3 linked regions of the Homo sapiens genome follow. The protein of the gene in region 2 interacts with the protein of the main gene of each other region in a biochemical or structural test. Each region holds a gene or a part of one and is shown on either strand. Other genes may lie near its edges. The genes, in order: ZNRF1, ATP1A1 and ZNRF2.

The links.
Region 1: of the proteins of ATP1A1 (region 2) and ZNRF1, one has a biochemical effect on the other in vitro, tested with the Homo sapiens proteins (one study listed by BioGRID).
Region 3: of the proteins of ATP1A1 (region 2) and ZNRF2, one has a biochemical effect on the other in vitro, tested with the Homo sapiens proteins (one study listed by BioGRID).

What each region holds. Positions count from the first base shown.
Region 1 is NC_000016.10:75,099,883-75,103,633, forward strand, and holds part of ZNRF1 (E3 ubiquitin-protein ligase ZNRF1), read left to right. Parts: intron 1-3,751. UniProt on the Homo sapiens protein: E3 ubiquitin-protein ligase that plays a role in different processes including cell differentiation, receptor recycling or regulation of inflammation. Mediates the ubiquitination of AKT1 and GLUL, thereby playing a role in neuron cells differentiation.
Region 2 is NC_000001.11:116,397,141-116,400,891, forward strand, and holds part of ATP1A1 (sodium/potassium-transporting ATPase subunit alpha-1), read left to right. Parts: intron 1-747; coding exon 748-898; intron 899-1,480; coding exon 1,481-1,649; intron 1,650-1,789; coding exon 1,790-1,944; exon of another isoform or gene 1,945-2,174; intron 2,175-2,279; coding exon 2,280-2,403; intron 2,404-3,720; coding exon 3,721-3,751. UniProt on the Homo sapiens protein: This is the catalytic component of the active enzyme, which catalyzes the hydrolysis of ATP coupled with the exchange of sodium and potassium ions across the plasma membrane.
Region 3 is NC_000007.14:30,350,532-30,354,282, forward strand, and holds part of ZNRF2 (E3 ubiquitin-protein ligase ZNRF2), read left to right. Parts: intron 1-229; exon of another isoform or gene 230-306; intron 307-3,751. UniProt on the Homo sapiens protein: E3 ubiquitin-protein ligase that plays a role in the establishment and maintenance of neuronal transmission and plasticity. Ubiquitinates the Na(+)/K(+) ATPase alpha-1 subunit/ATP1A1 and thereby influences its endocytosis and/or degradation.

The sequences.
Region 1 (3,751 bases), on a different chromosome or scaffold from region 2:
TCCCTGCTAGGCTCTCAGGGACATCCGGAGGCCACTAACTCCCACAGCCCCAGGGGTGGGGACAGGAAGTTGTACTCAGCCCACTGCAACCTCTTGCTGGGTTTGTGTGCCTCCTGCCTCCTGCTGTGGAAGAATGCTGCTCCCTGGGCACTGGGCTCTGTGTGGGCACTGCTGGCTTCCCCATGCTGTCTGAGTCAAAGACCCTGACTCCTTCCTATTGCCGGGAACCTCCAGGTGGCCTTTTGCAGCCAGTGGCTCTTGGTCCCAGTGAAATGTGCTCCCTGCCGTGTGCCAGCCTGGTTGGGGTGCCTGCACATTTTAGTTCTTCCCACCAGTGCAGCAGACTCAGGCCAGCTGGTAAAGGCACAACACTGCACTGTGCATAAAACCGCCTTGTGGAGTGGTGAGGAAAGGCTGCCTCTAACCTTCCTCTGCTCAAGTCTGAGTCCTTTAGTGCACAGGCCTTCCGCCCCAGGACAAGAAGAATCGCCCTCGCGCCCCCTTCCCCTTCCCCTTCCCTTTCCCCTAGTGAGGTTCGGTGCAAAAAGAGAGTCAAGTCCAGTCTTGTCATAAAGCGCCTAAGCCTTATCCTCATACCTGCCTCTCCCTTCCCTGAATCCATCACCTCCTGGGGGGCGATGAGGGAGACCACATGTGCCCTCCTGGAGCTGACACAGATGGGGAGAGAACACACCTGGTGTGGGAAGCTGTATGGGACCCAGAGAATTCTAACTAGTCCCTTGGGCTCACAGTTGAGTTACCAATCAGTAGGAGAAAATGCAAAGATAAACTACTTAGGAATCAGTAATTGCCATGTTCCCAGGAAATCCTCCTTAAGTATGGAGGGGAAGGAATGCTTTAGAGGAAACTAAGGGCTATAGCCCATACGCTCATGTCATAGATGAGGTGTCCAAGACAAAGAGAGTGGGGAATACAGGTCCAAGAATGTCTGCATGACGACTCTGCCCTCACTAAGCTATGCTGTTTTTCCTCCCATCTCTGTTGAGGTTTTTCCCTCTGTTTTATTATGAAAAATGTCAAACACACAGCAAAGTTTTTATGTTTTTTTGAGACAGAGTCTCGTTCTGTCACCCAGGCTGGAGTACAGTGGCACAATCTTGGCTCACTGTAATCTCTGCCTCCCGGGTTCAAATGATTCTCCTGCCTCAGCCTCCCAAGTAGCTGGGACTACAGGTGCATGCCACCATGGCAGGCTAACTTTTGGTTTTTTAATAGAGACAGACTTTCACCATGTTGGCCAGGCTGGTCTCAAACTCCTGAGTTCAGGTGATCCATCTGCCTCAGCCTCCCAGAATGCTGGAATTACAGGCATGAGCCACTGCACCCAGTGTACGGCAAAGCTGAAAGCATTGTATAGAGAACACCCTTATTGCTGGGCGCGGTGGCTCACGCCTGTAATCTCAGCACTTTGGGAGGCCGAGGTAGGTGGATCACGAGGTCAAGAGATCAAGACCATCCTGGCTAACATGATGAGACCCCGTCTCTACTAAAAACACAAAAATTAGCCGGGTGTGGTGGCATGCACCTGTAGTCCCAGCTACTTAGTAGGCTGAGGCAGGAGAAACTCTTGAGGCGGAGGTTGCAGTGAGCTGAGATCATGCCACTGCACTCCATCCTGGCGATAGAGCGAGACTCCATGTCAAAAAAAAAAGAGAGAGAACGCCCCTATTACATAGCACATGCACCACCTGGAGTCTGCAGTGTACTAGACCCGTTTATCCATCCACCAACCCATCTTATCCTTCTGATGCATTTCATAGTAAAATGCAAACACCAGTATGCTTCCTTATCAGGGTTTTTAACTAAAGTAGTGCACATTCGAACGCTACAGAAATACATAAAAGGATTTTTCTCCAAGTCCTCCTTTCCTCTACCACTGTGAAAGTGTGTGCATCCTTCCAGACTTTGATCTGTGCCTACACATGCATTTGAATATGTATGGTAGCTAGTGCTTTCAAGCAGGGGGATCACACCCATGTGTTCATCCACTACTTGCCATGTTTGGAGTCTGAGGGGACAGACACTTCAGCAGCAGACTGTGCCATCTCCCTTCTCAGTTTGTGTCACCCTTTCAGGTGGGTCCTCGGGCTAGCCAGATGTTCTAGACAGAAAATGACCACAAGTTGTCCTGGTGGCCAGGAAGCTGAGAGTGACTTCTCTCGCAACTCATGTGCCTGGGGACTTAAGGATCGAATCGGTTCCATTTTATGCTTTTTCCTTGGGGTTCCTGGTGGGGGGCTTTGAGGAGCGGAAGCCATAGCCTTCTGGGCCCTGAAGAATCTTCATTTTATGGGCCCCAGGTGTTTGCCTTTCCACCAAAATAATAAGAGAACACAAAGAAACAGCAATGGGAAGGCCTCTTAAGCAGAGGGTCCCAGTCCCAGCCCCACAACCCACAAGCCCACTCATGAGGTGTGTGACTTCCTTGGGCTTCCGGATCCTCATTCGCAAAATGAGAATAACACTGGGTGCCCTGCCCAGCTTGGAAGATGGTGATGCTCAAAGGAAGACACGCACATGTGTTTGTCATTGGCAGTGTTCGGGACAGTTAAGTTCCTTTAGTGACGGAGAAGGGATCCTGCCACAAGCTCTGCCTTCTTCACAGCTGAGACACTGCTCTCCTGATATTTCTCCTGTGGCTTGGAGGACTTCTGGGTCGCCTTTTGTTCACGTCGCCTCTTTTCACCTGCCCTTCAAATATTCATGTCGGCCTGGGTTTGTCTTCTGCCTTCTTTGGATTTTGGTCTGAACTTTCTCCCTGGACTGCCTCTTTATCCCACATCCATGCCTGGCACCCATGTCTCTGTTCCAAACCTCAGCTCTAGGCTTCAGCAGCCTCCTGGAGGTCTCCATCAGCTGGCCGGGCCTCCTCCCACCCAACTCAGAATCCGTCCCTTCCTTCTCATGCTTTCCTCCTGGGCACCCTCCCTTAGTGCAGGCACCTGCTGTGTGTCCCGCTGCCCTCATCCGCACACGCAGGGCTGCTGCGCACTCCTTGTTGTCGGCCCCAGACACCACAGCAGAACACAAGGCTGTTCCCTGTGCCCAGAATCTCCCGTCCCCACCCCAGCTTCATCCATCCTCCACCTTCTCCAGAACCTTCCCAGATCAGCCCCCATCCTGATGAGGTCTCTTTCCCCATACCCTCAGCCCTGGGCCTGCGCGTGAGAAGATGTCCTGGAAGTCCTCATGCTGTGCCTTTTGATTTCCTTGTTCGGCATCCCTGCTAGTCTGTGAGCTGCTTGAATCCCGAGATCATGGCTATTCACTGTCGCCGGCACGCAGAATGCCATAGGACTTAATAAAAACCAGTGGGTTCCCATGGGTGCAAGTAGCTTCCTTCCATTCCTTCTTTTTGGGATGGTGAGCGGGGTCACTTTTGTTTCTTTCTTTTTAAACATTGAGATGAAACTCACCATAAAATTAACCATTTTTATATGTGCAATTTAATAGCATTTAAGACATTCACAACCCCCATCTTTATCTGGTTCTAAACACTTCATCGCCCCAAAAGAAAACCTCTGGTGTGATTCCACTTACATGAGGTAGCTAAAATACTCAAACTCATAGAAGCAGAGAGTAGACTAGTGGTGGCCAGGGGCTGGGCGGGGGGAAGGGGAGTGGTGGATTAATGGGTATAACATTTTAGTTATGCACGATGAGTAAGTTCTAGACATCTGCCATACAACATAGTGCCTACAGTTGACAATACTATGTTGTACACTTGAAG
Region 2 (3,751 bases):
TAAAATAAGGAAGGGACAATTACTTAGGCCATTCAGGCAAACACAGGAGACATTTGGCAATGAAGTAAAACAGATAATAGCAAATTGGTTTTGTTTTAAGGTTTAGGGCCCTTTCACCCTATGTTACGGTTAGAGGAGGGTTTGGTCTTGTATCAGCTCTGCCACTTTCTAAAACTTGGTTATATTTCTTTTTTTCTTTGATGGAGTCTCGCTCTGTCATCCCGGTTGGAGTGCAGTGTCATGATCTTGGCTCACTGCAACCTCCACCTCCTGAGTTCAAGTGATTCTCCTGCCTCAGCCTCCCAAGTAGCTGGGATTACAGGCCCCAACCACCATGCCCGGCTAATTTTTGAATTTTTAGACCACCATTTTGGCAAGCTGGTCTCGAACTCCTGACCTCAAGTGATCCACTCACCTCAGCCTCCCAAAGTGCTGGGATTACAGGCATGAGCCACACACCCAGCTAAAACTTGGTTATATTTCAGCATGTCTAATAAAGATAGGGAAAGGAAGAATACAGACAGGCCTGCCTTAGAGATCATCATGAGCCTCAAATGAGATAAAATATATGAAAATGCTCTGTAACCTGTAAAGTACTGAACACTTAATAGCTTTTATGTGCTGGGGAAAATTCCTTCTTTGTTTTGTTTACAAAGTGATCTGCATAAGAATATCCCCTCTTGAGGTGATGGACACATGCTGGTGATGTGATGCGTGACTTTTTTTTTTTTTTTGTCCTAATTCTAGGGATGCCAAGGCCTGCGTAGTACACGGCAGTGATCTAAAGGACATGACCTCCGAGCAGCTGGATGACATTTTGAAGTACCACACTGAGATAGTGTTTGCCAGGACCTCCCCTCAGCAGAAGCTCATCATTGTGGAAGGCTGCCAAAGACAGGTCAGCCAGCACAAGGATCAGGCTGCTTTGGGCACTATTGGCTTTAGGGATTGGAGTTCCAGTGGAAACAGAGCAACGGTGATGGATGGATGCATACCTCGCTGTATTAGACTCAGTATAAATAGGCCAGTAGGAAGCTCATAGGCATAGAGAGGGTGACTTGTTAATGGTTTAGCAGTGACAGAAGCACTTTAAAGTCCAGGTGTCCACTGTGTCCCAGAGCCTGACCGCTCCGTGGAGTCATCTGATATGGGGTCCTAGTATTTGCAATAGAGATGTGAGTGGTCAGACTACAGGGCGTGCATACAGGAATGGCATTTTCTGGAGTGCCACCCACCAGAGTCATTACTTTGAGTAGCTCTTGTTAATGCTGGGGGCTATGTTTGTTGTCACTTCTCAGTTCTGTTATTTGGTGTAGGGCCTGTGTGAATACTTGCCTGTGACGGTTCTCAGGCTTCATAAATAGTCTCAATAGGAAAGGAGCAGTGTCTGTAATGAGTGCTCAGTGGGGGCATGCATCGCACTATTTCCATCGCTAGGAAAAGTGATTGGTATTAACCCGTTTTCCCTTTTCTGGGGTAGGGTGCTATCGTGGCTGTGACTGGTGACGGTGTGAATGACTCTCCAGCTTTGAAGAAAGCAGACATTGGGGTTGCTATGGGGATTGCTGGCTCAGATGTGTCCAAGCAAGCTGCTGACATGATTCTTCTGGATGACAACTTTGCCTCAATTGTGACTGGAGTAGAGGAAGGTGAGAGCTATTTAAGGTGTACACCAAGATCTTATTCAGATACTGCCCATTAGCATCCATTTCTGTATACTTCTTGGATATGTTCAGTTTCCAGTGTGCTTGTCTCATAAGCTAACAGTAAAAAATCTTGGTTTTCATAGGTCGTCTGATCTTTGATAACTTGAAGAAATCCATTGCTTATACCTTAACCAGTAACATTCCCGAGATCACCCCGTTCCTGATATTTATTATTGCAAACATTCCACTACCACTGGGGACTGTCACCATCCTCTGCATTGACTTGGGCACTGACATGGTGAGTGTCACAACAGTCACAGATCGATAGTAGTGAGGTGTGAGCTGTGTCTTCATTCACTGGCACTATGCTCCCAGCATCCATGAGGCTGGCGTTGGGAAAAGAAATTCTCAGGACCAGTATCCAGTGTGTGTCCCAATCCCGGCTTCACAGAATCAGTATTACCACTCTTCAAGGCAGCAGTTAACATTTGTTTATCAGATGGGAATCTTTATTTTTGTATACTTCACCTAAAAGATTTTTAAATGGGAGGGCAAGAATTTTATAACAAAAGGTTCACAATATTAGCTTCCTTATTTTTAGTAACTAAATTCCTTCTCCCCACCCCTTCCCAGGTTCCTGCCATCTCCCTGGCTTATGAGCAGGCTGAGAGTGACATCATGAAGAGACAGCCCAGAAATCCCAAAACAGACAAACTTGTGAATGAGCGGCTGATCAGCATGGCCTATGGGCAGATTGGTAAGCTGCAGCCTGGAGTGGGAAGCTGGCACATCTAAGGCATCTGAGGTGATGGTGTCCACCTCAGGTTGAGGTTGATTTCAGAGACTGCAAATCCAGGCGACTTTCAGGTCTAGGATGAGCCCTAACGGAGTGAGCCTGTGGAGTTTCTCTGAACTCTCTTCCATGTGAGAATACATCTGTTGCTGTTTGCCCAGTTACCTTTTGTGGAAACTGGTTTTCTATACTGAGCACCTTGGAACTGGGCTCAACTCTGCCTGAGAAATGAGGATGTCCTTCCTCACTGAGCCTTGCGGAACAGGAGGCATGGTTCTAAGGAATTGTGTGTACTGACGCACAGGCTGCTTTCCCTGGAGATACACACTTATCTGTCACTCACTTGGATGGAGTTAGGCATTGGAGAAAGTATATGTGTTTGAGAGTTTGGCTGGTAGGTCACCACCAAAGGGTGATCCTCCATCCACCTCACACTGGACTTCTGCCCCCACAGTGCAGCATGACTAGCTAACAGGTGATCCAGGTGGTGGGCAATCAGCATGCCATTTGTTTTTAAATCCTCTGCCTAGGGTTCCTTCAAGAGAACCTGGCAAAGCCACCATGGATGTCTTATTCTCCTGGATTAATGGGTCACATAACTGTGAACGCTTGGATAAAGAAGAACAGATTAGATAGAATATTGTGGAAATTATGGCAAAGATTCATTAGACAGTTGTTGGCAACAAAGTAATTGGCTGGTGGCCCATCCTGACCTTCTCCAAGGAGGCCTGCTTTTGAGAGGAAGGAAGACTAGGTCTCTGGTGGTTTAGGATGAAACCCTGCCCTGAGGAACTTGGAGCAGCGTGGTTAAATTGGATGCCAGGGGGAGGAGGGTCCTGAAGGTGGGGAGGAGAGTCAGAAAGTGCCACAGTGGCTAGAAAAATGGCAGCATGTAGGAATTTTGAAAGATGGAAAAGAAGTTATCATTTGTCAGAGATTAAAAAGTAGGGAAGTGGATTTCCCCTAAAGGTCATACCCTTAGAAGCAGCTGGTCAAGTAACAGGTGGGCATTTTGAGAGCAAGGCACATGTGTCTTTGTGTAGGCTCCAAAAAGTGACTCAAAAAGCAGAGGGCCCTGAGATTGGAGTGTATGCCTGGGGTCCTCCATCCCATCCCTCATAGCCTGTGAGTGACCAGGCAATTCTTTCCTGTGCTTTTATCAACCAGGGGGAAACACTCCTCCATATGTGCTCTCCCAGGCCTGCTGCAGTAATCAGCTGAAGGCTATACAGGTACCCTTGTGTGTGAGGTTCTAGTAATTGGGTTGTTTTCCCAACTTAGGAATGATCCAGGCCCTGGGAGGCTTCTTTAC
Region 3 (3,751 bases), on a different chromosome or scaffold from region 2:
CTTCCCTTTGTTAAATATCATTTCTAAGCCTATTTATATTTGAGTACAGTAATAGCTCATGGATCTGTAATTGAAAGAATTAGTTAATGTTACGTTCTTTTATACGTATAAGAGATAACTTAATATCTGAAAGTATTTATTATTAAAACTTGTGAGCCCCAACTTTTTGTTCTTTGAGTAATTGCTTTTCACTAATGTTGTAAATTTTTTTAATTCTTGATTTTTCTAGGGATTATTTCACATTTCAGCTGCTTTTGTTTTCTACTGCTATCATTGAGGGTTCAAGAACAAAAAATAAGTCTTCAGGTAAAATGCCTGATCCATAATAGCGCTTGGCGTTGTATTTTGCTGAAAAGATCATATACCTGTTTGGATGCTTGATCTGAAAATAAAGTTGTGATGATTATGAAATTTTCGCATGAAGTTTCCTTGGCTGCCTAACAAATTCAGTCTTATTTGTTGGTTTGGTTTTTTGTTTTTTTTTTTAAAGAATTTTGGCTGTTTGCTTTTTTTTTTTTCCATGTCGTCTTGATCTGCAATAACTATATGGATATGTGCTTGGACCTGCTAAGTATTTTAATTTTGCATATTTGGCTGCTTGAATTTTAAGTAATTTCTTTGGACAATGCAAATTTTAAGAGCTTGAGAAGCTGTAAGTGAAATATCAAGTAACAGAAGTTTGTAACTAGTTTATAAATGTATATTCATTACCTATTATATATTTTAAGGTTTCATATTTTACCAAAATTAAATTAAAAATTCAGTTTCTCAGTTGCACAGGCCACATTTCAAGTGCTGTTTTCAGGCCATATGTGGCTAGTGGTTACCATTGTGGACAGCACAGATAAAAGATGTTTTTTCATCACCGTCCATAGTTCTATTGGACAGAGCTGTTTTAAATTGTGTAAGCAGTTAATTGTAAGGTCGTTTCAGTTATTTTATCCAGAAGATAAAGCGTGTGACCAGTCTTGAGAGTACTTCCTCTAAATATGTAGCTTGAGTATTTAAAACTTAGTTGTTTAAAACAGTCCAGTTGCTTTGGTATTTACGTTGCTTTAAAGTGAAATTGTTTCTTGTAGCAGAATTCATGAAGTAGGAAAAATGCCAAGGACTTAGTCTAAATTTGAATCCTGACCTCAGGACTTAGTAGTTTAGTAACTTCTGGTAAGTTACTTTACTTCTTTGAGCCTCAGTTTCCTTATGTGTAAAATGAAGGTAACAATAGTTACTTCATAGGATTAACATGTGACTTAAATATGTCAAAAGCACATTAAAAAGTACACGTTTTTAATCCTTTTAAAATATAGAATGAAGCCAAAACATAAATTAATTAGACAGTGTCATATGCTTGGAGTTGTTCCCAGCCTGGCAGTTATAATAGGCGCCTAAGTTCCTGGTCTTCATGGAGTTATTTGATGACATTGTTCAGGTTTGAAACAAGTGGAATACCAAGATGGAGAGAAAAAGAAATAGGAAGATGACTGACTTTGTTTTTGGAGAGGTGCATGAAGTACTATCTGATAATAACTAACATTTTGTATAGTGTTTTTTTATAACTTATAAAGTTTTTTCACACAATTCTTTAAAATTTCATCTCTAATATTTTGAGTACTTTTAACAGAAGAATAAAAGGAAACTTGAGGTTGACGAACATTTTTGTTCGTGAGAATGGAAATTCATATTAAGTTTTCAACTTTAAATCTTAGGCTCTTTCTACTTAAACAAGCTATTCTTTGATAGCAGTCGCATTTGTGAGGCAGGCATATATTTCAGAATCTCCAGGGGTGGGACTCAGGTACATATAATTTTTTGGTATATGTTGAAAATGCACCCATTGAAGTGATTCTAGTGCCCACTTCTGGTTAAAAATCGTAATCATTGCTCTTTTCCAGTCTTTTAACTTTTCTTTTCCTGTAATCAGTACATCTAAATTAATGCATAGATTACATGAATAAGACAAGGCATTAAACTGATAAGCAATGCGCTCATTTAACTTTTACTACTCTAGATGTTGAGGTATGAGCAATAACACTTTTTAAAAAGCAACATGTTTAGTTCCCTGTTGACAATCTCTTGTGTCTCCATTGATCATAGCTTGTGGAGGAGGAATCCAGACTAGCCAACTATGGTAGTTAAATCTGTGAGTGTTCCCTTCTCTGCTTCTTTAATGAGTTTTGGCTAGTTAGTAGTCTACCCCAAGATATTCCAGTTCTGAAGTGTTGACTCCTTAATCCCTGTGGGTGTTATCTTCATAAATGTTTTCAACTGATCTTTAGATTTTTAATCTTTTCCCAACTGTCTTGAAGATGCTTTAGTATCCTGGGTTTAGTGGTATTTCCAGGTCCTGTTTTTAAGTATGAATGTATCACATTACTAACAAGTCTTTCACAATTGTGAAATGTAGTTACCTATGTGAAGGCAAAAGCTCAAAACTTTCCTCTGAATGAAAGTGTCATTATAGGGGTGAGAGAGGGGACTACTCTAGCAAACCCCCAGGTAGGCAAAAATTAATCACATTCCACAGTGAATTTTCAAAACTGAAAATATTTTTAAACATACAAAGACACATTCTAGTGGAAACAAGACTTTAAAATGTGAAAATTAAGCATTTGCTATGTGAAGCTGTAATCATGAGGTTTTGAAGTCAGAGTGAACTATCTTCTAACTCAGAGTTGCTTATCAAAATGCAACTGATCAGTGGCTACAATATGTTAACATTAGCTTTTAATTTTCTGAGCAGAGATTATGTCACTAGAAGCTATTTTTAGTGGATATTAGGCTGTTTCTGCACTGAAATCAGTGTGTTCGGGATGTTTTTGTATACAGGTATACTTTTCTTGAACAGAAAATACAATTCTGAAGTACAGTTCTGATTATTTTTTATTGCTAGGGTTTAAGGGAGCTTATTTTTTAAATGACTTTAACCCAGCATTCTGAATTACACTAAAAAGATTGTTTAAACTTAGTACCTGCAAAGCATCTGAGGGATAAGTCTCGCCCCTGTCAATTTTAAAATAGCATTGTGTTCTTAAAATATGTATCATTCTGTTAATTATAGGCAGGTTGGATTTGTCTTTGTTGTACTATAAATTTTCTTATAAATAGGATAAAATGTAGACCTTTTAAAATATTCTCATCTCAAAGACTTTGAAGAGCTCTGAAAATGAGATGCGTCTAAAATCGATGTTGCATCATAGTTTGGTGGAAGCATTTTTTTTTTACTTGGTGGTATATAAAGCTAATGGTGCATATTATGACCATTGATGTTTTAGGTTTGATAAAAAGTGGTGGTTAACTTTTTGAAGGTGGTTGTGAAACTTACACTCACATAATTCTTTGATAAGAATGGTATACCTTTGTGATGAAAAAATACGTAAGTGGTGAGAATATACCATATTACTTGGAATTATAGACCTTTACCAGGTTTTTTTAGTGTCTCCTTTAGATCCTTTTTCTTTTTGTTCTCACTGCTATCAGTTAGATGCTTCACGTTAAACTTGTTCCCTATCTGAATCTCCTATTGAAAGATACTAGAACAATAAGAGAAAAATGGAGATCAAGAGAATGAGAAAAGGCATGGGGTGCAGGATGGGGTAGGAGTAGTGGGTAGGATCTCTAGGGCCAAGAGAAAAAAAAATGGGGAAAGGGAGGGCACTTCAGGGAAGTGGTAATAACATTTTCCGTTTATCCAGCTTTGCTTGTCCAGAAATCTTTACCTGCTTAAGTTTCTGACTGTAATATATTAGCTTGT